Regions from separate parts of the Homo sapiens genome. Here regions 1 and 2 are each linked to region 3. Evidence: fine-mapped expression QTL. A gene starts in region 3. Each other region holds a variant in brackets. All regions are shown on one strand. Distances are between the middles of the regions. Region 1 overlaps PDE3A (phosphodiesterase 3A). Region 2 overlaps LOC105369688 (a long non-coding RNA gene). Region 3 holds the start of PDE3A (phosphodiesterase 3A).

The links.
Region 1: its variant is fine-mapped to the expression of PDE3A in testis (GTEx, PIP above 0.99).
Region 2: its variant is fine-mapped to the expression of PDE3A in skeletal muscle (GTEx, PIP above 0.99).

What each region holds. Positions count from the first base shown.
Region 1 is chr12:20,548,364-20,556,363 of GRCh38, reverse strand. All of the region lies in intron 1 of PDE3A (phosphodiesterase 3A), which reads right to left. It also overlaps the pseudogene LOC728688. Among named protein-coding and RNA genes, the nearest start is that of SLCO1C1, 140 kb to the left of the region's middle. RefSeq lists a silencer at 4,735-5,029. The variant C/G (reference allele first, on the strand shown) is at 3,551.
Region 2 is chr12:20,316,473-20,325,057 of GRCh38, reverse strand. LOC105369688 (a long non-coding RNA gene) reads left to right here. Exons shown (of 3, transcript XR_931419.3): 3 at 4,196-4,242. Among named protein-coding and RNA genes, the nearest start is that of PDE3A, 48 kb to the left of the region's middle. The variant G/T (reference allele first, on the strand shown) is at 4,234.
Region 3 is chr12:20,363,539-20,372,113 of GRCh38, reverse strand. It overlaps PDE3A (phosphodiesterase 3A), which reads right to left and starts at 3,577. Exons shown (of 16, transcript NM_000921.5): 1 at 1,870-3,577. The coding sequence starts at 2,829. PDE3A-AS1 (PDE3A antisense RNA 1) reads left to right here and starts at 1,858. Exons shown (of 2, transcript NR_186033.1): 1 at 1,858-2,273. RefSeq lists a silencer at 2,245-2,539.

The DNA of each region.
Region 1 (8,000 bases), 180 kb before region 3:
TATTATTAAGCCTTTAGCTTTTTAAGAAAATATTCTGGGTAAATGACTACTGCAGTTAAATCTACTGCCGCAAATGATAAGAACCAGAAGGCCAAATCAGTTCAATAATTTTTAATCCTCCTTCAAAACTATAAAAATCTTGAGAGTTCTAAAGAGTAAAATTATTAAATATTTAATATGAAATATGCCCACATAGTCACAAAACGTAGATTTTTAATAATAACCTATAAAATATCATCACGTTATTCCTATGGTGGTAATAGCCCTGAGCTACCTTGCTTACAAAGAAGAATATTTACTTATTGAAAATAACATTTAACATTAAGAATATTAAGGAAATAAAAGATATTGACTCAGAGAAATGAAACTCCATTCATCTGTCAGTAATCTTATTAGTCATCAGTACCAGCTGAAGAAGTATTTACAGCTAATAAGCTAGCACACCAATAAGATGGACTATAAATGAATTTATGTACGTTATTAGCTTTTCTGTATAGCAGCAATGACTCCTAAGTAGACTTAACAACAAACAACTGTTCACAATAGCAACAAAAATAATATGCCTTTGAATATTATCAAGAAATGTTTGATAACCATATACAGAAAATGGTAAAAGTTTACTGAAGACATACAGTGCTACTGGTAAAGAAGACTTAATTCTATAAACTATTGAGTGCTCAATTCTACTCAAACAAATTTAACTAGATTTCAGGTTTAACTAGATTTCAATCAAAAGCTAACAGTATTTTTAATTTTGAAAGAATATAAATTTCATTGGAGAGTATAAACATATATAATCAGTTATGTCAGATGAATAAGTGTAGCGATACAACGCAGAATATGAGAACTATACCTCATGATGTTATACAGTGTGCTGAAGTTTGCTAAGAGGGTAGATTTTCGGTGATTTCACCAAACACAAAGTTAAAACTATGAGAGACGATCGATGTTAATTTACTTGACCTTAGTAATTACTTTACATTGTAAATATACATCAAAATATTATGTTGTACACCTCAAGTATATACAATAAAAAAGAATCCATTAGAGGCCGGGGCGCAGTGGCTTATGCCTGTAATCCTAGTATTTAGGGAAGCCAAGGCGGGCGGATTTCCTGTGGTGAGGAGTTCGAGACCAGACGGGTCAACCCTGTCTCTACTAAAAGTACAAAAATTAGCCAGGCGTGGTAGTGTGCACCTGTAGCCCCAGCTACTTGGGAGGTTGAGGCGGGGGAATTGCTTGAACCTGGGAGGCAGAGGTTGCAGTGACCCAAGATCGCACGCCACTGCACTCCAGCCTGGGAGACAAAGTGAGACTCCATCTCAAAAGAAAGGAATCCATTAGAAAATGTTACAAGTGATGAAAATACCTTTCTGGTTATTAAGATATATTATAAAACTTAACCAAATTTGGGGATAATGGTTTAGCATTAAAAATGCAAATGAATGAAATAATTTGGAATAAATATACGTATGTGTGCTAACAAAATATAAGCAAGAAAACATCAAAAATATTTTGTATTTGATGAATTATTCAACTAATGAAAAAAAGGAGTTCATGACCAGCCTGGCCAACATGGTGAAACCCCTTCTCTACTAAAAATACAAAAATTAGGTGGGCGTGGTGGGGCACGCCTATAATCCCAGCTACTTGGGAGGTTGAGGCAGGAGAATCGCTTGAACCTGAAAGGCCAAGATTGCAGTGAGCTGAGATCGCGCTGCTGCACTCCAGCCTGAATGACAGAGTGACACCCTGTCTCACAAAAAAAGAAAAAAAAAAGAAAGAAAAAGAAAAATAGACTTTTGAGGGTAAAAAATAATTAAAGCCTAACCTTATAATAAATGGTAATATTAATTATAGATTTAAAAGACAAATTTTTAAAAAGACAAAACTGTAAATATAAAATAGAATAAAATCCAGGTAAATACTCAACCTATCTTGGGAAATAAAAAAAAAATTAAATAAATCTAAATCTTTTTTTATTTTTTTTATTTTTTTTTTTTTATCTGTGAAAAACATTTATTCTGAGAATCTAAAATCTGGACAAAGTACTGGACTTTAGAAAAAGCCTACACAAAATTGTCTCATTCTTCCCTAATACATTAATAATCTAAGAATAAGGAGGTGAAAAAAAACCCTTTAAAAATAACATTGCTCCAGTTTGTCTGCAGGTATGTGATTTAAAATATCCCTGTTTTATTGAGGTATAGGCTGCAAACTTTGGTAAAATTAGAAAAATTAACAAACCCTTTCAAAAAAAAAATACAAAAACAAAAACAACCAAACCCTAACGTTATATCTTTCTTGGTACATATACAGTAACTACAAAAAAATTCATTTAGAAAATGTGTTCATTAAGAGAAAAAAAAATTAAAAAAAAAACCCTCTTGTAAGTTCTCACTTGCTGAGTTAAAAAAATTGAATGTAAATGATCTATAAGGCTCAAACGGTTCCCAAGCACCCATCCGGTGTCAGGAAGAACTGGATGACCGCAGTTTCTAGAATCTGGTTGACATTTTCAATAATTCAGTGCTAACAACAAAGACTGTCGTCTTTAGAAAGAAGGAACGAATCAAAGGCACTTGCACGTGACTTCATGTGCTGGCGTCCGTCCGTGGCCGCCTTCGTCGGACAGCGTCAGCCACACGCCTGGCCCCACGTGGAGCGGAGTCCCCTTGAGGCCATTTCTGCGTGGCCCCAACTCCCTGCTCTCGTGGGCAGAGGACTTTTCACGCGGATCTCAGACGCTAAGCAGTCTGGTGGGGGATGGCTTTGAGGCAAAGGTTTGAACTAGGCCCGAGATGTTTCCTCTTTTCCTTGCAACAACTTCAACAGACAGCTGAGCCACGCCATGCCACGGGCTGCCACGGGCCACCACGGGGAACCATGTCACTGGACTTTAGATGACAAAATGCTGTCAGGAAGATGCTTGCTCTGACCTTGGGGGCCAGAACCCGAGAGAAGGACTGATCCTGTCGCCTTCTTAAAGAGTTGGTGGCAGCAACTTCTGAGAACTTGACACCAGAAACATCAACAGCCTCCACACCACGTAGTTTCTGATTCCATCTTTAAAAAATCTTGTGTTGTTTTGTCGAGAAATTGCAGGCTTTTATGTTTTCAAAGAACTAAACACAATACTGAGAAGTCCAACTTTTAGCCAGAATACATAAATTCCTGAAAATGTATAGATTTGAAAAATAAAAATAAAAAAAAAAAAAGGAAGACAAACCTTTTTAGGGAACGGAGGAAACACTACCTGTTTAAGTTAAGCCCACTAAGAACAAAATCAGTGCCGATGAACGAGCCCTCCGACACGTTTTCAGCAAAACGCCTGTCGAGAAGTGCTTGGAGATCACCGGCCATTGCCGTAGCCGGGGAAGAGCTGGTTGAGGACGGTCTGCAGAGGCTGGTTCACCTGCATGGCATAGCTGCGGCCCAGGTCGTAGCGGCAGGCAGGGCAGCTGAACACCTGTGCCCGAAAGGATCTGTCCAGGCAGTCCTTGCACACGTTGTGCTGGCACACGGTCGTGATGGGCCGGAACACCAGCTC[C/G]TGACAGCAGATACACTGGAACGTCTCCTCCACTTTACTCAGGAACAACTGGAACGGGCTGCCGCTCGCCGGCCGGTCCTTGAGTGACGCCAGGACCTCATTCCACAGCTTGGCGTTGCTCTTGTCCTCTCTGATGAGGCTGCTCTGCTGGGCCGTGAGACTGTAGGGCTCCACCTTGGTTTTCTTGGATGTCCGGCGCGGGGACCCGGCCCTGCTCGGGCCACCTCCTGCCGACTTCCGCTTCCACTTGCCCTTGCCCGTCCTGGGGGACGCGAAGCCCCCCTCCTGCTGCTCCTCCTCCTCCCTCTTGCTGTTCTCCTTCTCTCGCTCTCGGTTGGCCAGGGCTTCCAGGTAGCCTTCTGGATACTGCATGGTCAGCCCCAGCTTCTTGATCCGGTCCTTCCCCTCCTTCGTCCAAGGGCCGGGCTCATCATCGTCCCTCCGCAGAAGGTAGCGCCACACGAGAAACCCGGACTTCCCCTTCTCGGGCCAGTATTTCACAACCTTGTAGATGCCATCGTAGCGGTTGCCCTCAGCGGGGGCGTACTTGCTATTCTTGCCACCCTTGACATTGCGCACCACCCTGACCGGCTTCCCCGACCGCCAGTCCTTGGCCTCGGCCCCTTCTTGGTCATTGATGGGAGCAAAGCAGTTGAGAGCCAGCGCCCTGTTGGTGTTGGTGAGTTTCTGATCACAAGACTGTTCCGCGGTCCTCTTGTTGCCGGAAAGCTCTCGACCACCACTACCCGTGTATGTGAAAAAATTCCCATGGTCCACGTCATCCTCGTAGCCCCCCGCCAGGACTAGGGAGTACGCTCCGTCGTTGCTCCGGCCATGGATGCCAGCCACGTGGGGCCGATGGACACCCGACTCGCTGACCTGGACTCGGAACCGCCACATGGTGCCCACGGGGATCCCCGGGATGGGTCCGTAGTGGTTGGACGGGATGATGGTACATTCCTTGGTGCGGCCCACACAGGCCATGCCCTTGTCCCAGTCCCGCTGTGAGGACGATGTGGCCGAGGCCATCTTCGCCTTCTTCTTGCTCTCTCTCAGCCGCTCTCCCGCCAGTACCACCTCGCTGGCATCATTCCGGCACTCAGGGCAGTACCACTCGTCCTCGCTGGGAACACTGCTGAGGGGCGGGTCCAGGCAGTAGATGTGGAAGGCCATGTCGCACTCATCGCACATGAGCTGCTTGTCGGGGTCCTGCCGGCCCCCGCACAGGTGGCAGGCGCAGACCCGCTCGGGGGTCGCGTAACTAGTTAGCATGCCAGAGTCTCGTTCGTTATCGGAATTAACCAGACAAATCGCTCCACCAACTAAGAACGGCCATGCACCACCACCCACGGAATCGAGAAAGAGCTATCAATCTGTCAATCCTGTCCGTAAATCTTTTTTTAAAGACTTTTTTTTTTTATTACAAAAGAGGACAAATTGATCTGGCTATATAAAACTTTAGAGTATTTGCACAAATGTCACATTGGTAAAATATCTGTAGTAAACTTAGGTAAAGAATAATATCTTCAAGATATCAAGGGTTCTTACAAATTTGAAAGAATCCCAACCCTAGTAAAAAACTGAGGGAAGAGTGAGAACAACTTACAAAATAAATAGATCTATGGAAAGACATTTAACTTTATTGGAAGTAAAAGAAATTCAATATAAACAATGACAAGATACTACTATTGCCTATTATATTTGCAAATTAATAATGTTGAATATTTGGAAAACAGGGAGTAAACTAAGCATATATATTGCTACTATATAACAAATATATATTTATACACATTGTATATATATATTTACACACATATAAAATATATATAATACATATATTATTAAAAATTCATACCCTTTGAACCAGTAAACTAAGATCTAAAAATCCAGTAACTATAATGTGCTACTAATTGTTTATCCAACAAAAGGGAAATTACTCAATAGATTACGGTATACAAAATGATACCATAGAGCAATTAAAATTTGGCTTCCAAGGCCTTTATAAAAAAGAACATGTGAAATGTTCACAGTATAATAGGTAAAAAACATAACAAAGTAATTTAATGAATTTTAAGCTACTCATTTTTAACAGACATAGTCAATTGTTTTAAGCCTTGGAATTATCATGATGATTTAATTGTAGTTTGGCTAGCACACAATTTTGGGTACACTGACCCAGATAATCATTATATAAAATTGAATGCTTACATAGTAGATATTTCTTTAATGCTTTAATTTTTTAATTTATGGATTTACTGGCATTATATCATCTCAAAAATATTTATTGATACTAAAGATGATTATAATATGGTTCACAAGCAATAATTAACTAATGAAATAAGTAGTATGATTTAGAAACATTAGTTGTTCACTAGAACTATCAAAAACAATTCTTGACACATTTCAAACATTGACAATACCTTACATTAAAATAGGAAGATGAGCTCATTATTTTTGGCAACTTTAAAGTGGCAATAAATTGAGCAATAGGCTTCTAGTGAAATGATTTATCAAAATCTTCTGGAAGATTTACAAAATGCTGACTATTAACACTGTTATCCTCCTTGCTAATGAGTTTAAACTAACAGGATCAAAATAAGGTGGTAAATTCTCCTATCACAACTAAAAGAGGTAAATAAATCTTACAAACACAAGTTATAATCCACAATATATTGATTTAAGAGAGAATATTTCATGATGACAGTAAGTCAAAAAGGAAACATTTTTGTAGGACCAGAATTAAAATGAGGAAAGCATGTAATTCACTGCCTTCTGCCATTAATTATCTTAACGATGACGATTTTAGTCAAAGAACAAAAACACTCAAAATGTAGACTAATTTGGGTCATCATTTACTCCAGAAGATAAGATCAATTTGGTAATTTGCAAATCAGAGCTTGTAAGATGCATTTCAAAAAATTCACTATCTAAATTTGACTTTTTCTTTTAAAGCATAAAACAGTAAAATTTGCCAAGTGTGTTATGTATCAGAGAGTTATTTCCTAGCATTATATAACAAACTGAGAAATATGCAGGGCAAAGAAATTCTTTTCCATTCTTATTTATATATTAATATCATCTTTATATTATATTTGAAAGGTATGAGCTGACCAAGAATGTGGTAGTATTTTAAAATGTACACTATGGCTACTTTTTTCAAAGTAATAAAAAATGTTACAGAAATCTACATCCTATGTGAAATATATTCAAAAAGAATGAACTCTGCATATGACAAATGAGATACTGTAATGTTCTACAGTCAATAAGAGCACCAAAGGAAGTAAACAGGATATTTCTCCTTTTGGATTTGAAGAATACAAAGTGTTTATCATTAAACTTCCATTTCTAATTAAAATAATCTGAGCCAAAATTTAGCATTTATTATTTCAGTGTATTTTCTTTTTTTTTTTTTTAATGCAAAGAAAGAGGCAATGATGGGGGTAGGGACTGCATAGTGTCAGAGCTTTATTCCTTCCCACGATTACAGCATTCTGGCCACTAGATGGGGCATGGGGTGGAGAGTGGGAGATGTAAGGATAAACTTCATATTAGCGCATGACAGCATATGAATTTTTATCCTATTTGTATAAAAAATATTTTACTGTCATAAAAACATAGTTCTCAGATAAAGGATGAAAGACTACAATAAGCAGCATATTGTCAGAATCCATTAAAAAAAACTACTCATAGTGTGATAAACTGACTTAATATTACAGATTATTTAAAATAAAATGAGGCATTTAGCTACTGGTAAGTACTCCTATTAAACAGAACCATAGGGATAAATGTTTCACAAAGACATCTCCCTAGCCCTTTCTTGATGTGTGATTACAACAAATAAAAAAAAATGGTTATTCACAATAAATAGTAAAGAAGACAGCTTGCACATTGAGGTCAATGAATTTCAGAATTAAGTGCAAAATGATGTTGATATTATTTCAAAGAGAAAGTCAAAACATCCTTTCAATTAAACAGATAAGATTAGTGTTAAGTTGCAGATGACCAAAGTAATCATTTGACATTATCATAGTAGCAGATAAAAGACGTTAATGGGCCACAGACAATGAGGAAAAGAAATAGAAACTGTGGAATTTTCCTTTTTGCAAAATAATTCATTTTGACTAAACTTTCAAGAGAAATGAATAGCAGCATGCTACTTAAGCAATTCTGGGAAAAGAGAAACTTTATTAAGATGATATGATACTCTTTTTGGAGAAGGAATGCTAATGATTTTAAGATTAGTTACATAAAGTTGCTAGAAACATAAAACAGAGAGGGAGAGATTGAGACTGGAAAAATAAATAAAAGTAAGTTTAAATATATTCTAGTTGATAAGAGTACATAACTACTTAATTCAGGGAGAAAAAAAATGTTTGTCTCTCACCATCTATAAAAAATACCCTCTGGCTAGTTTATGATTACTCCTCTGGGTAATGACATTTTAATAAGC
Region 2 (8,585 bases), 47 kb after region 3:
AAAATAAAACATTAATGTACAAATAACAATAAAAATTCTTCCTACAAATGAAATAATGGGCTCAGATTATTTTACAGGTGAGTTCTATCAAACACGCAAAAATAATATATTTTGAAACAATGCCTTACAAAGAAGAGAAAAAGAGACATCCCCAAGTTAATTGACGAGGGTAGTGTAATGTTGGCATGAAAATGAAGTCAGGAATAATAGACTATTAAAGACCACCTTCACTCCTGAGCATAAATGCAAAAGTCCTAAGTAGATAGCAAACCAACTTTACTAATTGTTAAGCTTTCTCTTTAAAATCAGGAATAAGTCATCAATGTGCCCTATAATCATTTCTACTTTACTATATGGGAGACCTTATCTAATATAACAAAACAACAAAAATAAAGCCTAAGAATTGGGAATGAAAAAAATTATTATTATTTGAAGATTAGATAATTAGCTCTATAAACAACCTCAATTTTCTACAGATTATTAGAATAATTAAGAGTAGAATAAGATTGCCAGATCTAAGGATAATATACTAAAGCCAACTGAATTTCTGTATATCCATAAATAATAATTACAAAATTTAATTTAAACAAGTGTATTCTTTACAATAGGAACCAAAAATACACGGTAGTCAGAAATAAATAGAAATAGAAATTTTAAAAAACAAGAAATTAAGATCTTTATAAATTGAAACATATACCATGTTTATGAATAGAAAGACTAAAAAAAAATGTCATTATCCCCAAATTGGTTAGTATATTCAATAGAATTCTGATCAAATTTCCAAAAGAGTTTTTCTTGGAATTTGACAAGCTATTTCCAAAACATATGCACAAGAACGAAGAATCTAGAATAGCTAAAATATTCATAAGGAAGAAGATGAAGGAGGAGGAAGAAGAAAGTGTCTTATTTTCTCATTATGAAAAAAAATTTAATAAAGAAAATGTAATACTGGTATATAAAAATAAACCAGTGGAACCAAGTAGAAGGCCGGCCCAGAACCAGATGTATGTGTGTATGGCTATTTGACATATATGACAGAAATAGAATTCTTGGTCAGTTAGGAAAGAATAAACTATTCACAAATAGTCTAGGGCAATTTTCTGTCTATAAAAGATAAATAAAACTTGAACCTTGCTGAACCTTGCTTCTCTCTCTTTCTTTCTCCCTCTCTCATACACACACACAGACAAACAAATTATTTCTCTATACCTTAAAACTTACTTGTGAAAAATTTAAAAAGTTTAATGGCAGCACAGGAGAACACAGAGTGGGAAAAATTTCTTAAATAATGCATGTAACACTCAAGCAATAAAGAAAAGGATTCATATATTCAAATACAGTAAAATGAAGAACTTCCAATTGAAAGACAACATAAAAAAGTAAAGATAAACTGCACATTAGTTCAGGAAACAATATTTTAAAAATACATGACTAAGAAAATCTTAAAATCTTATCTCCAGAATATGCAAAGAATTCCGATAAAGCAATATGTAAGAGCAAACAATTCATTATTAAAAAGGGAAAATATGAGAGGCATTTCACAAAAGAAGAAATAGGAGTAGGCAATATCCATAGGAAGAGATGCTTAATATTATTAATAGTTAAGAAATACAGATAAAAACAAAATAAAGTTCTCATTTCATATCCATGATATGGAGAAAAGTTTCGATGATTAATAACAAATATTGGAAAGCATATAATAGAACAAGAACATCTAGAGTACTTGTGAGAATGTAAATTGCTACAACTTGTCTGGAAAACAATTAGGCACTGCTACAATAAAGTTAAGGTTATGAGTACACTACAACTCACCAATTCTATTTCCAGGAACATATCACAGAGAACTATCTCTACATGCATATCTGGAGACACACACAAAAATGTCAATAGAGGCATGATTTGAAGTAGACAAAAACTGGAAATCATAGATGGGAGACTAGATAAAGAAATCATCTTAAATTCATATAGTTGTACATAATATTGGTTTGAGAATGAACTGGAGTATCAACATGGATTAAACTCAAAAATAATATTCAGGAAAATGTCACCGAAGTATACATAAAAGCATAATTTATTATCAGCATATAAAAGTAAAAAGGAGATAAAACCAAATAGTGTATTTTTTAGGATGCACATATGTGATAAAACCACAAAAAAGAATTAACGGAATGATGAACACAAGTTTTAAAATACTGACTCCCAAAAAGTGAAGACAGGAATGAATGGTAGTATACTTAAGTTGCAGCTCATTTTCTACTTTTTAAGCCAGGTAGAAAGCATATGCCAATTTGTTTTATTGTTCTTTCTTAAATTGTACATATATGCCAAGTCTCCTCTTATAAACATTTCATAATAAAACAGTTAAGTGTTGTCATTTTAATTTTGTATCTTGAGTAAAGAAAAAAGAATTTGAGCTTGTTTTTATCTATATGGTGTCAAAAGTAGTCAACCTCCCTGTATTCCTGGTGTTTACCAGTGTCTCGGAGTGGTAGCCCCACTGTGATCTCTGGTCTTCCCATTGTTAGCAATTGATCTGACACAATCCCTGAGAATAATATAGTATTATTATATACCACTATATTTTTTCACTACTGCATGTCAAAGACTGAAGTTCTAGAACATTATGGAACACTCACTGTCACCTCATCTTAGACTTAACAAACCCAAATTCCTCACATTTCCTGAAGTTATTTTATTTTATTTTATTTTGAGAGACTAGCTGGGGCCGGACGCGGTGGCTCACGCCTGTAATCCCAGCACTTTGGGAGGCTGAGGAGGGTGAATCACAATGTCAGCAGATCGAGACCATCCTGGCTAACACAGTGAAACCCCGTCTCTACTAAAAATACAAAAAATTAGCCGGGCGTGGTGGCGGGCACCTGTAGTCCCGCTACTCGGGAGGCTGAGGCAGGAGAATGGTGTGAACCCGGGAGGCGGAGCTTGCAGTGAGCCGAGATCGCGCCATTGCACTCCAGCCTGGGCGACAGAGCGAGACTCCGTCTCAAAACAATAAAAAAAAAAAAAAAAAAAAAGAGACTAGCTGGAGCGCAGAGGCATGATCATAGCTCACTGAAGCCTACAGCTCTTGGACTCAAGCAATCCTCCCACCTCAGCCTCTTGAATAGAACTATAGAACTTCCTCAAGTTTTATTACTTGAAACCTACTCTTAAATATTACCCTCTGCATCATTCAGGGTTCTAACTAACCTGATTTTTTTTTTACTAAAATATGCTGATGTTTATTAACCATAGCAAGATACCATCCAAAAATATTATAACTACATATTTATAAAAGATGCTATACAAACTATATTTCAGAGACCCAGAAGAAATTTTACAAATGGTATCAATTTCAAATAGGCCCTGGTAAGCTGGCAAGTGGTGTGCATTTATAGTCCCAGATATTAGGGAGGCTGAGGCCAGAGGATCACTTGAGCCCAGGAGGTGGAGACCAGCCTGGTCAAAAGAACAAGACCTCTGTCTCTGAAAAAAAAAAAAAAAAAAAAAAAAAAATAAAGGCCCTGGTATAAAAAGGGAAATTAGAAAATGAATAACTAAATAACTATAAATAAATTTCAAATAGGTCCTGGGTAAGCTAGCAAAGTGGTGTGCATTTCTAGTCCCAGATATTAGGGAGGTTGAGGCCAGACGATCACTTGAGCCAGGAGTTGGAGGTCAGCCTGGTCAAAAGAGCGAGACGTCTGTCTCTTTAAAAATAAAAAAAAAAAAAAGCCCTGGGATAAAAAGGGAAATTAGAAAATAATAAATAACTAAATAACTATAAATAAACATCTACCAAAAAGGCCCTGGTATAAAAAGGAAAATTAGAAAATAATAAATAACTAAATAACTATAAATAAACATCTACCAAAGTGAAAGACTATTAAACACGGTTTACACATTTAATAGACCTTATAGATTTCTACCCTAATGGATTTGCTGTGACAACCTAAATAGCTTGTAATCCACAATCACTGAAGCAGCAATAGCTCTTTGCAGTTATATTTTGAAAACAGGCATATCCACTATGGCTAGAAAAAAACTGTTATTTAAAAGAGTGAAAGGAAAGCCTAAGAGTAATTCATGTAAGTTAGACAAAGAATGGAACATTTTAATGCTAGTTAAAAACAGATACAGCTTCAGTTAGCAAGTGAATAAAAGGTCTTTTTTCTTTCTTTCTTATTCTTGATCACAGGAAAACTGACCTGACGAGGAGATGGAATCACTGACACC[G/T]GATGTCTCTCTTAGCAAGAGCAAGGAATATCAGAGGGACCTTTCTAATTCTGATATCTCTTGTCATGTGGTAGCTACTGGACACTGCCCGTCTCAGACAGTTCCTGATTATTGCCCTATAGCACTGGTTCCAAACGACTGTTCCTTCCCTAGGGTCAGATGCAGATACAATTACCTGGAATCAATTCAAGATAAAAGAGTCAGCTTTTGAAATGGGTCAGAAGAAAGAATCACTGCCAATGAGTGAAATCTGGTTGAAAGGCTAAAACAAGAACGATTCCCAGTTTGAAGCTTATTATTATTTCCAATTTTAGGTTGAGAGTTACAGGGATATTGTAAAATTGTAATTTTGAATATTGTAAATAAACAACTTAAAAGTGTTGCCAAAGTAGCTGTGGTAATCATTTCCCATAATTTTCTATTAAGGGTTGAAAATGCCAGATCAGGTGACCGCTTACTGAGGATATTTTCCCTTGGGATGCTATTGGTGTGCAAATGTATGTATGTATCTGTGTCTATGGTGGCATTTAGTTGTTCTTTTGCTGGATTGACTCTTCTATTTGCATTTAAAAAAATCAAGTAGGACGGGTGCAGTCGCTCATGCCTGTAATCCCAGCACTTTGGGAGGCCGAAGCAGGCGGATCACCTGAGGTTGGGAGTTCGAGACCAGCCTGACCAACATGGAGAAACCCCATCTCTACTGAAAATACAAAATTAGCCGGGTGTGGTGGCACATGCCTGTAATCCCAGCTACTCGGGATGCTGAGGCAGGAGAATTGCTTCAACCTGGGAGGCAGAGGTTGCAGTGAGCCAAGATCGTGCCATTGCACTCCAGCCTGGGCAACAAGACGGAAACTCCATCTCAAAGGAAAAAAAAATAATCGAGTAAATCTTATTTAGCCATGAACATTATATAATTAAGTCCTCAGTCCTCAGTTCTAATAGCAATGACTATGAAGAATTATTAATATTTAACAAGTGTTTCTTATCCCTGAATGGGCTGTGCTGCTTCAAGTTCCTGAGGCATTTTACTCTTTATCCTCTCTATCCGGAATACAACTTTACCTTCTTTTTTGTCCTTCACCTTCAACTTGCTACATGGCAGGAATCTGCTAAATGTGCTATATGCCTTATCCCATTTAATCTCACAGCAACACTCTGAGGTAAATTCACCCTCCACTTGATATTTGAGGAAACGAAAGCTTAGAGGGGTCAGCTTCACACATAGCTATAATAATAGACTGTGGCACTGCTCCTCAAAGCCGCCTCTATCTGAGTTGCCTGGATTAAAGCCGTGGCAGTGGAAATTGAGAGCAAGCAGTTCAGACTTCAAAGACATTTCTCTGTTTCAGTTGACAGGATTCAGTGATGTTTGAATCTGGGGTTGAGGGGTAGGGAGTAATCAAGGATAACTGGAGGCTTCTGATATGGTTTTACACCGATAACAATAATAAGAGAGCAAATAAGAGCTCTTGAAGCCAACTTGATGGGAAAGATAGAGAGGTCAGTTTGGACAGACTGAGATCTAGTTCCTCGAGGGGTCCACTTAAGAGTTAAACAAGATCGTACTGTGATTCACAAAGAAAATATAATGGAGACATGCCGGAGGAGTTCAGGGTGTAGGAGGAAAAAAATTCAGAGAAAAAAAATTCCTATTGGACCTTCAAATAGTGCAACTACATAATGCATATATAATATATACATATATCTACGTAATAATAGAAAATTTAGTCATCTTAAAGAAACATGCCTAGTTTTCTAGTCAAAACACAAAAAAGTTAACATTATAACACATACAAAACTTCTTGATCTATTTAGCTTACTTAATGAGTTGCTGTAAAGTTTTATAAAAATCCAATACAGCCCGAATACACAAAACTTGATTTAGAAAGCAAGTGTTATATTGATTTAAGGCTGGAGTAAAATATAATTTGATTATAAAAAGTTTGTTCCATAATTTGGGTTGATTTTACATTGTGAAGTCACTAACAACTCTCATTTGATCCAGAAATTTTGAGAGTGCTGTACCAACTATTTAAGATGATAAATCAGAGAGGACTTAAAGAGTTCCAGTCAGTTTTTGTTTCTCAGCCTTAATTTCCTATCTTATTGAATTTGCTTGCTGGTATTTATTTTTTAGGATGGCATACTTGTTGTCTTTAGTGAGGACAAATTCTACAAGAGTTTCTATGAAGTTTTAGATAAAGGAAATGTCCTATTGTTTTTTCTCTCACACACTCAAAAAGAGAGAGTAAGAAAGAAAAAAGGAAAATATAAAAGAAAAAATAAAATATGACCAAATTTAAGCTCTGGATAAACTTTCAAAAACTACAAGTTATTAAATATGGTTATTAAATTAAATAACAATGTTAAAACTTCTTGCTTACGTCACTATGCCATATGTGCTAATCTCTTGTAAGTTCCCAGCTAGACATCAATTTTTAAAAGGAGTTTTTTGTTTTTTGTTTTTGTTTTTAAAAAAGGATGGAAAATTCTTAACTGGGCTAGGTAATAATCTGCTTGCAAATTGCTCATTTATGTGACCGAAGGGAAAGCAGAACTCACATTAAGTATTGCATGCTAATATGCTTCCTCCAGCTTATCCCACAGACTTTCACTCAAATTGCTCATATTTCTCCACGGAAATGTCACAGTACGTCTGTGCAAGCTAGTTTTTATGGATTTCTATGAAAAGCTTCAGAAACATAGCCAGCAAATAGTCTCCCTCTCAGGCTCACTCACTACCTTCCTTTCAGAACTCTGGCTGTGTCTTAGTCTGTTTTGTGCTGCTATAACAAAAATACCTGAGACTGGATAATTTATAAAGAACAGAAATTTACTTCTTACAGTTCTGGAGGTTGGAAAGTCCAATCAAGGCACCACAGATTCAGCTGTCTGATATGGGCTGCTCTCTTCTTCTAAGATGGTGCCTTGATGCTGTGTCTTTAGGATGGGAGGAACGCCGTGGCTTCACATGGTAGAAGAGATGAAAGGGCAAAGACGGGACAAACTTTCTCTGTCAAGCCCTTTTATAAGGCCATTAATCCATTCATGAGAGCAGACCCTCATGACGTCATCTCTCAAAAGGATCTACTTCCTAACACTGTTGCATTGGGGATTAAGTTCCCAACACATGAATTTTGGAGAACACAGTCAGACCACAGCAGGCAGTACAAAAAACTCTCATCACAGGCTTTTGAATATCCAACTGCTGCCTAAACTATAGTGACTGATTGACTACAGCAAAAGATATCAGGTGGTTTTGACCCTGAAATATCTAAGTAATCTAAAAATGCTTAGCTTTCTGTTGTATACAGAGTGACTTGAATTTAAAATAAATCTCTGCCCTCTAATGGTAATAGTATTTACATAAAACATATTTAAAATAACAATTGAAATCCATAATCTGCCCATAAAATACATGGCCAGATTCTTATATCTACACAAATTCTGAAGTTCATTAGCACAGTAAGTTTGTTTCTTAGAGTACAAGTGACATTATTCATTTTTAATTTTTGTGGGTACATAGTAGGCGTATATATTTATGGCGTACATGAGATGTTTTGCTACAGGCATGCAATGCGTAATAATCACATCATGGAGAATGGGGTATCCATTCCCTCAAGCATTTATCATTTGTATTACAAACAATCTAATTATACCCTTTTAGTTATTTTGAAAAGTACAATTAAGATATTATTGACTATAATCAACCTGTTGTGCTCTCAAATAGTAGGGCTTAATCATTCTATTTTTTTGACATTAGAGTATTTAAAGATAACATTTTGCACACGAGGAAAGCAAGCCAATGAAAGGCAATAGTTTACCCTTAATCCAGTAGCTTGTAAGGTGACAAAAGCTTGAAATTTACATCAGGTTCACAGCCTCCCAGCTCAATAATCTTTCTCATGGCATGGTTTCATCATTAATGCTGAATACATGAGAGGATAAGACTATGACCACGTGCATTGAGGACAACAGTGGAGTTCGCTTGGGCCCCCCAATTGTTATTTGTCTAGGAAAACTGTTTCCAACAGAATGGAAAATTTGAAAAAACAATACATATATATTCATATCTATCTATCCATCTCTCTCTATATATATCACGTAAACTTCTGATAGAATAATCTTGGAAAGAAAAGACACCCCACAGTAGTGCTGGTTTAGAGGAAGAGAATTAACAAAGGCCAGAAATATTACATATTAAGTAAAGAATTTTCAGTGACTAGGTCGGGCGCGGTGGCTCACGCCTGTAATCCCAGCACTTTGGGAGGCCGAGGCGGGCAGATCACGAGGTCAGGAGATTGACACCATCCTGGCTAACAAGGTGAAACCCCGTCTCTACTAAAAAT
Region 3 (8,575 bases):
ATGCTGCTGGTTAATTTACCTAACCACCTTCTTATCTTCTATCCACCCTTAATTTCTTAACTTATAAATGTTAATATAAAATTTTAAAAAATAATTCCACAGGGTAAATGATATCAATTTGGAATCAAGTTGTGATTAAATCCCAGATTTTCCTTAGAAATTATGGTTGTGAATTTTGCAATAGTAACATCCTATTTCCCTATAAGTTAATGAATAGTGTATTCTGAACATACTTAAAGCGGTGGTGTTTTCATTTAAGACATTCTCTCCCATAACTGTGAAAAGAAATTAAAATGGTTAGTTTACCCTCAAATAGATAACTTACTCCATTTTAACAATTTCCAAATTTTTACCAAAACTATCAGTCAGTGGCCTGTTTTCCCCTCCACTCTTAGAGTAAGCTTAAAGACAAGAAACATTTGTTTTATCGAAACAAAAAGCAAATAACTACATTTGCTTTAAAATAAACAGACTATGATGCTGTCATCTACTCTGCTCAATAATGTCAAACAGCCATAGATCTGTGTAATCAACTCCATTTCAGAAACCAACTAGCCACCCACACCATATGGTGACTGCTATTTCTTAGAAATACCCAAATGATTATCCACAGAATAACCTAAAAAGAAAAAGCTTACTTTATCTTAGGATATTCTCTTGCTCCCTAAAGTTGTCCTAATAGTACCACAGGTAGGCATTAATTTAAAGGGAAAAATGTAAATTTCCACTTGCTGTATCCAACCAGCTCCTCCTCCCCATCAAGTGTCAAATCCACTTCAAATAGAGAGGTGAACAAATCTGCTTCAACTAGGGAGGCATACCCTTCGGTATGCTTTTTTAGACACCGTATGCATTTAAAATTGGGATTTGTTCCTTTATGCCCTTTATAGCAACTGTTCTATAGTTTTAAATCACTTAATGATAATAAGGAGACTCATCCCCAAAAGTGACTAAAGTTTTATTTACAACTTTATAATCCCAGGTTCCTCCTCCTCCCACGTTGTGGGAAGATATACATCTCCAGCAATCTTAGAAATGGCCTCCCGAATTAGTATTTCCTGTAAAATCTGCATAAATCCATTTGAATTTATAAATATCCACTTAAGTATGCACATACTAAAGAGAACTGTTTTGTTTTTAGTTGACACTAAAACGCAGTTGACAATTTTGAACAATTCCAAAGTTCAGACATATTATTCCCCAAGTTGAAGTTTGTGATACAAAACACACTAGCATGTAATAATGTATGCCCCTAAATTATATTTAAAAACAAATTGGGCACCATCAGCTGCAGTCTCTCCAAATAAAACTTACTGCAAAACCAGAAAATGTGTATCAATTCCTCACCTTCAAGCACAGCTTGCTTTGCTCTAGAATCTTTTTACTGGTTTTCATAAATGTTTAATATCATTTCATTAAAAAGATTTTACTTTTTAAAAAGTAGAAATCTAGTAAAATCTATGTGTTAAAAAAATCACTCATTGCTAAAATCTAAACTTAATTCTAAAATTTCTGCTAAGGAAGGAAAGCGTAAGAGTACTGAAAAGAGTAGGCAAGCCATACACCAGGTGTAGCAGATCTAAAAAGTTGGCCCAGCTGTGGAAGACCCTACACATGCCATCTAGTTTTGTTAATTGTGTTTCAGTCGTTCAGGTTATAAAACTACTGTGTGAAAGAGAGGGCAAAAAAACAAAAAAAAAAAAACAAAAAAAACAAAAAAAAAACCTGCTAGTTTCTTAATTCTGAAGTTAGACCAGTTTTCTAGGCTATCTTCCCTTTAGTTCCCAGCGCTCGGATTCTCTCCACTCTGCGCCGGTTGCCAAGTGTTTCAAGTTTCCAAGAGCCGAGAGAGGAGTTGCCAGTGCTTACCTGTTCCCTCGGTATACAGGGCAGGGAGGTCCTCCGATGGGACTTGCTGCTGCAGCCGGACATCTCGGCGGACACGACGGAGCTGGACCGCCTCCTCCTCTTAAACACCGGGATATCTTCCTTGGTCCCAGCAATCAGCTGGGACCCCAAATGCTCCCTTGGAGCCGCCTCCGCGGACTGCGGCAAGATTTGTTCCACGTACCTGGCCAAGAGGATCCCCAGCACGCCGGCCAGGTACGCCAGGTAAGGTCTCCAGGCGACCTTGAACCTCTCTAAGGAAATGAGGGACACGGTCCTGACCGCGCTAGTCAAGGCGATCATGAGGACGCCCAGCCTCAGCCTCAGCACCAGCCATGTCGCGGCGGCCAAGCAGCTGAGCACCACCCCCGCGGCGGGGAGTGAGAGTAAGTGATCCTCCCCGACGCCCAGCCCAATCTGGACGAGCGCTTCCCCCCCGCAGCAGGCGGCCAGCAGCGCGACAGCCAGAGGCAGGCGCACCCCGGCGCGCAGGAGGTACAAGCCCATCCAGAAGAAGGCACACAGGAGACTGAAGAGCAGCGCCGAGGGCTGCAGCCAGGGGCTGAGCCGCGCACCGCCCCCGGGAGCACCTCCCCGAGGCCCCGGGAAGACGCCCCCTTCTGCTCCCGGGGCTGCTTCCTCCTCCTCCGCCGCCGCCGCCTCCTTACACTGCTCCAGGTCACAGCCGACCTCCCCGCGGACCAGCCTCACCAGCAGCGCCAGCAGAAAGGACAGGGAGCCCGCGCACAGCGCGGAGGAAAGTTTCCGAGAGCTCCGGAGCGGCTGCAGCACCAGGTCTCCCCAGCAGCCACGGCAGCCCGAGTCCCGCGGCGATGCGGGGTCCGCACGATGGTGGCAGTCCCGGCCCGCCGTGGGGGCTTGACTCACCCCACTGTGGACGGGCTTGTCCCTGACTCGTGCAGCGTCGCCGGGCACTGCCATGGTATAGGGTGCCCTCTTCACTGAATTCCCAGTGGCCCCCCGACGCCCCCGCCCCGACCCACGCGCGCGCGCGCACACACACACACACACACACGCACGCACGCTCTTCCCAATTCCACCCTCGGAATCCTTCTTCTCCCCAGGCCCACAATCCACTGAAAGTTTCAGCTTTCGAATAACTCCTGGAGAATGCTAGATGCTCCAATGAGACTTCTTCAAGTTAAAGGCTAGCACGCTCAAGTTGAAAACAAGCACGGGCAGAAACGATCAGGATTCCCCTTTTCTCTCTTTGAATATCTTTCACAGATTCTCTGCTCCACCCCCACCCCCGACTTATATCCTCCGGGGTCTCTTCCTACTTCAGGATTTCAAAAATTGCCCAATGCATCCCGCGCGCAGGAGCCGCTGACGCTGGAGGAGCCGGGGGCGCAGGGCGGGCTCCGGGCCATTCCGAGGCGCAGCTCGGCGCTGCGCTGCGCTGCAGCGCGCCGGGCCCGCGGCAGATGGAGGTCTCCCTTCTCCTCCTTCCTGCAGCTCTTTTTCTATCACTCTTTCTTTCTCCTCGGCCGATTCTCCCCGGCACGGCCCCAGGACGCGAATCGCCATTCCCTGGGGCAGAAAGCAAAGCCTCCCCCGCCTCTGTCAATCCAATTCATGGCAAAGGATGGAAAAAAAAAAATGGACAAGGGGCTGAGAAATAAGAAGTTGCTAAGTCCCGTCGGAGAGAGAGCCAGACCGAGAGACTAGCGGCAGCCGCAGAAGGGAGGGAGGGAGAAGGAGCGAGTAAGAGAGGAAGGGAGGGTGAGAAGAAAGGGAGGGTGAGAAGGGAGAAGGAGATTTGCTTTTTTTTTCCCTCCCCACTTCTATTTGATGCAAGGTTGGTGGTGATTTGCAGTTTTGCAAAGGGGAAACGAGTGGCGACGACTGCTTAAAATTGTATAAAACTGGCAACTGGAGTGATCGACAATTCCGCTTTCTTTCTTTAAGGCAACTCCCTAGGAAAGCTTTCTCAGCCGAGCTCCCGCCCCCTCCTGCGGAGGAGGCGCTACCCTCAGCTCGATTGCTCCTTTGCTGGGAAAGCGGCCGGTTCACCCTACAGGCTGGAGCAGGGGCTGCTGAGGCTGATCCACCGCGCAGCCCACCGCAGCCCCGGGGTGTGGGGGGCTGCGGCTAGCCCTGAGGCTGAGCTCCCTAGAACGTTGGAAGGAAAAAAAAAAAAAAAAGATTGTGTTTGCCTACTTGGCAGATGAGAGCCAACATACTTTCTACTGTCCCTGAAAATGACAGCCACTTCTACTGTCTGATTCAAAGATGTTCCCAAGTCAGGTACAACAGCAGTCCAATTTCAGGTGACAGTGTCATCCTTTGGTCGCTCCTGCTGGAAGGTCTGCTTTATGAGAACCCAAGCCTGGCCTGTTGGTTCAAATGATGGAAGAATCAGCCTTACCTAGACCACAATAGTATAAAAAGAAAGGAAGGAGAGGCAGCAGTCATTTAAATCCAGTGCATGAGTATTACACAATAGTTTTTGACTGTGGAAAGTAAAATTACATTGAGATTAAGTGACCGTATCCTCAAAAAAGGTTAACAAAGTTTAAAAGCCCAGATAGTTCATCAAAAAATAAAGAAAAATCTCAAGGGAGAGGTGAGGATAGGTGGGTTAACACTAGGAGAGATCTTAGAAGACTGTCTATGGCTGCAAAATACTACATCTTCGAGCAAAGCATATGAAAAAAATCAGGACCTTAGTTATTAATGAGTAAAGGTTCGTGTACTGCAGCAGTGTGATATTTGAGAAACTAAAAGAAAATTTTCAAGCTAACCTTTTTTTGGCAGATTATGAAAAAGAATTCAGTATCTGTTCAATGGACTTAAACTCTATTGATGTTCCCTGGGATCTAGTTGTCTTTTTAATATGATACTCCACTTTTAACATGGCTATCTTAGATGTCATTTGCCCTCACTAATAATAATCTTAATAATCCAATTTTGTCTTAATTATCTTGACATTCCAGGTTAAAGTGTATTTACAGCCTAGAGCATTTAGATAATTGATTCAATATGCCACTGTATTTTGTATGTAGACATGAAGCAATAAAAAAAGCCAAAAGGAGATCCTTGAGATAAAATTAATTTATGGGGACAGGGGGAGAAGATGACTTAAGTTTTAAACAGCTTCATGGGAAGCAGCCTGTTCTAGTAGAAGGCAGATATACTATAAAGGTATAGCTTCTCTCTGTCAGATGTCCAGAATTGTGCTACCACACAGGAGTATGAGTTGGGCAGCTAGTCAATGGCAGTGGGCACCATCTGTTTAATAATTAAGGAAACAGGAGCAGCAATGTCTTTGCCAAAGACAAATGAGCCCCCTAGCACGCACACATACTTTCATGAGTTTCCTTTTTAGACATATGATTCATATGCCAGATCCTACCTGGGACACATCGGAGTGAAAAACCTTGATTGGAAAATCATTCATATCTGTTGGCATCAAAAATAACATATTAAAATAATAAACCAAAAATCTGGCATATATCAAGGTTAAAAAGAAAAGCATAGTAAGGGAAATTTTAGAATATTTCAATTTTATCTGTCCCCTACCCCCACAATTATCTCAGTTCTTTAGAAAATTTAATATAATATTATCATAAAAACTGAACACTTAAGGTATGGGAAGCAGATGTTTTTTAAAAGTTGTAACAGGAAAAAATGGCATTTGCTAATGGCAGCAAAACAAGAATATTCTAAATCCATGTGTTAATAACATCCTGGAACTCTTCAATAAAATAAGGAGGCAATGTCCTGGCATCCAGGTTTCTTTAACAAATCATAATCAAAAAGTTATTTGTCCCATCAAAAGGAAAGAAGGTAGATTTTTCTCCCCATACCATCCAGAACCCAGAGGCAAGTGAACAAAGACAACAAAATGCTAATGTTAGAGAGATGCAGAAACCTGCAGGGCTATACTAACTGAAAGAAGCGACTAATAATGTACCTTTAACAGAGTATATTAAATGAAATAAGCTGCAATACATAAACTGGATAGGGAGCAATCACATATAAACACTGCCTCTTTTCTACAGATAGTGGTGAGTCCTAGTTCAAGAAAGTGACAACACAGCCAAAGAATAAGGAAAATGTTGTACGTGCAGAAAAATAGTAGAGCATGGACAACAGAAATAAAAATTTAAGTTTTACTTGATAAATCTTCCACTTAGTCAAATCTAGCAAACATGTTTTTACAGTTTTTTGGGAAAAGGATCTAACCCTTCACATTTGAGCTTTATTAAATATAGTTAAGCGTCAGGGGATTCTATTGTAAAATTCAGTAAGTTTACGTTCCGTAGTATGGGTTCAATCATTCTCTGCTACCTATCTGATTATTATATATTTATATCTAATAGGTACCTAAAACATAAGGTATCCAAAACAAAATTCTTAACTTACAATTCCCTTCCTACCTATCCCCTACCCACCCAAACTATATTTTCTCAATCTTGTTACATCCCAGTAAAGAACATAACCATCTACCTAGTTGCTCAGGCCCCAGAAGAGGGAACGGGTCTTGATTCTTTCCTTTGTTTATCTTGTTTTACTTTTAGTCGATTAGGAAATCCACTTGATCCTGTCTCTAAAATATATTCTAAATCCATTTACTTTTCACTGTCCCTCTTATAATAACCTGCCAAAGACCCATCATCTTCCTTGGCCAGGACAAGTGCAGTAACTAACTGATCTTGCCCTACTTATAATTCATTTTCTATATAGCAGAGTAACACTTTAAAAATATAAATTGAATTATGTCCCTCCCCTATTTAAAACTACCCAAAGGCTACCCATCGTACTTGCAGAATGCAGTCCTCATCACAGTCCTCATGACAGTCCTACAAGGACCTTCATGATCTTTCCAAGTAATTCTCTCTGACCTCTCCTCCTATTCCAATGCTCCTACTTCACTGGTGAAGTACTATTTATTAGAACTTTCTTCAATGACAAATAGACCCTCTGCTGTCCAACATGGTTGCCACTAACCACATGTGGCCATTGAATACTTGAACCATGGTTGGTGTCACTGAGGAGCTGAACTTTTGTATTTTATTTTAATTTAAATTTTAATACATTCACTTGGCTAGTGTCTAAAGGAATGGAGAATGCATCTCTAATACCTCAGGCCACCTTTGTGTTCTTCATACATGTGAAATGGGAAACCCTGTTCAGGGCCTTGGTATCCAGAGATTTTCACATAGCTGGCCCCTTGTGCTCCATCAAGTCTAACCTCAAATGTTACTTTATTTTAGAAAGGCTTTTTTTCCAAGAATCTTATCAAAAATTTTTGGACACCCCATGTACACATACACACTTTTTCTTTCACTATCATACTACCCTGTTTCATTGTATTTATAGCACTTATCACTATACAAAATGGTCTTGTTCGTTTATTTGTTTTCTCACTTATCATTTATCTCTGTTCACTAGGGTGTTAGTGCCATGTGAACAAGGACTCTGAATAGCTGTCTTGTTTGCTGTGTATCTCCAATTACCAGAATAGTGCCTGGCACATGGTGGAAGCTTGTCTTAGTCTGTTTACTGTTGCTATGAAAGAATACCTGAGATTGGGTAATGCGTCATCAGGTGATTTCATCATGTGAACATCACAGAGTATACTGACACAAACCAGATGTGTGACCTACTACACACCTCGGTTATATGGTATAGCCTATTGCCCCTAGGCTACAAACGTGTACAGCATGTTACTGTATTAAATACTCTAGGCAACTGTAACACAATGGTAAATCTTTGTGTATCTAAACATAGAAAGGGCACAAAGTACCATATTATAATCATATGGGACCACTGTGGTATATGTGGTTTGTCATTGACCAAAACATTGTTAGCAGTGCGGGCCTATATCAATACTTAAATTACTCATCTATTAGAGAAATAGGTAATTGTCAAAGTTTTGAAAACTTTGTATTGATTACCTGATGAAATGTCTACAATCCTTAGCAGTTTTCTGGTAGGCTTAGGGATAAAGCAATGTAAAGCTGCATTTCAGTAATATGTAAGCTGAGAAATTAGGAGATACCTAAATATGAGTGACTAAGATGTCATAGCTCACATCACGATTTATGACATAGTCTCCAACTGTGCCAATTAACAACAATAGGGGATTAACTTAAGATTTAAAAAAGTAAACATTTTGCCAACATGGACCTTATTAATACTTATTATTTCACATATAGTCAGGGAAAAAATGCAGAAACCTTGCATTTTTAGATGTATCATCTGCCTTTTTTTTTTTTAATGCTGCCACTTAAAATGCAGTGCCTGCCCAATAAATTGCTGATAAACAGTCAAAGGCTGAGCTCTTATTGACTTCATGAGCAAATAGTTCAGGTTTACAGCAGCTACTGATGTACAGGCCAGTCTAAAATGTTAGAAATTAAGGATGATTTGCATTTTTAAGCTAGAGTGTATTATTGAGAAAAACTATGAAGGTTGTTGATAGAAAGGAAAATATAAGTATAGCCTATTTCTTTGTTATATTTCAACACCTCTACATTTTAAAGTTAGTTTTACTTACCTGTAAGTGTTATAATAGCACCCAAACTGCTACTTTTTATATATGTGACAGAAGGATTCCAGGGCAAAATTTATATACAGCGTAGAAACTTCCTTGATCTATAAATGTGATGCTCTTTTGCATGAAATCTACCAAGGTTTCTAAGTATTAATGGAGTGTTTT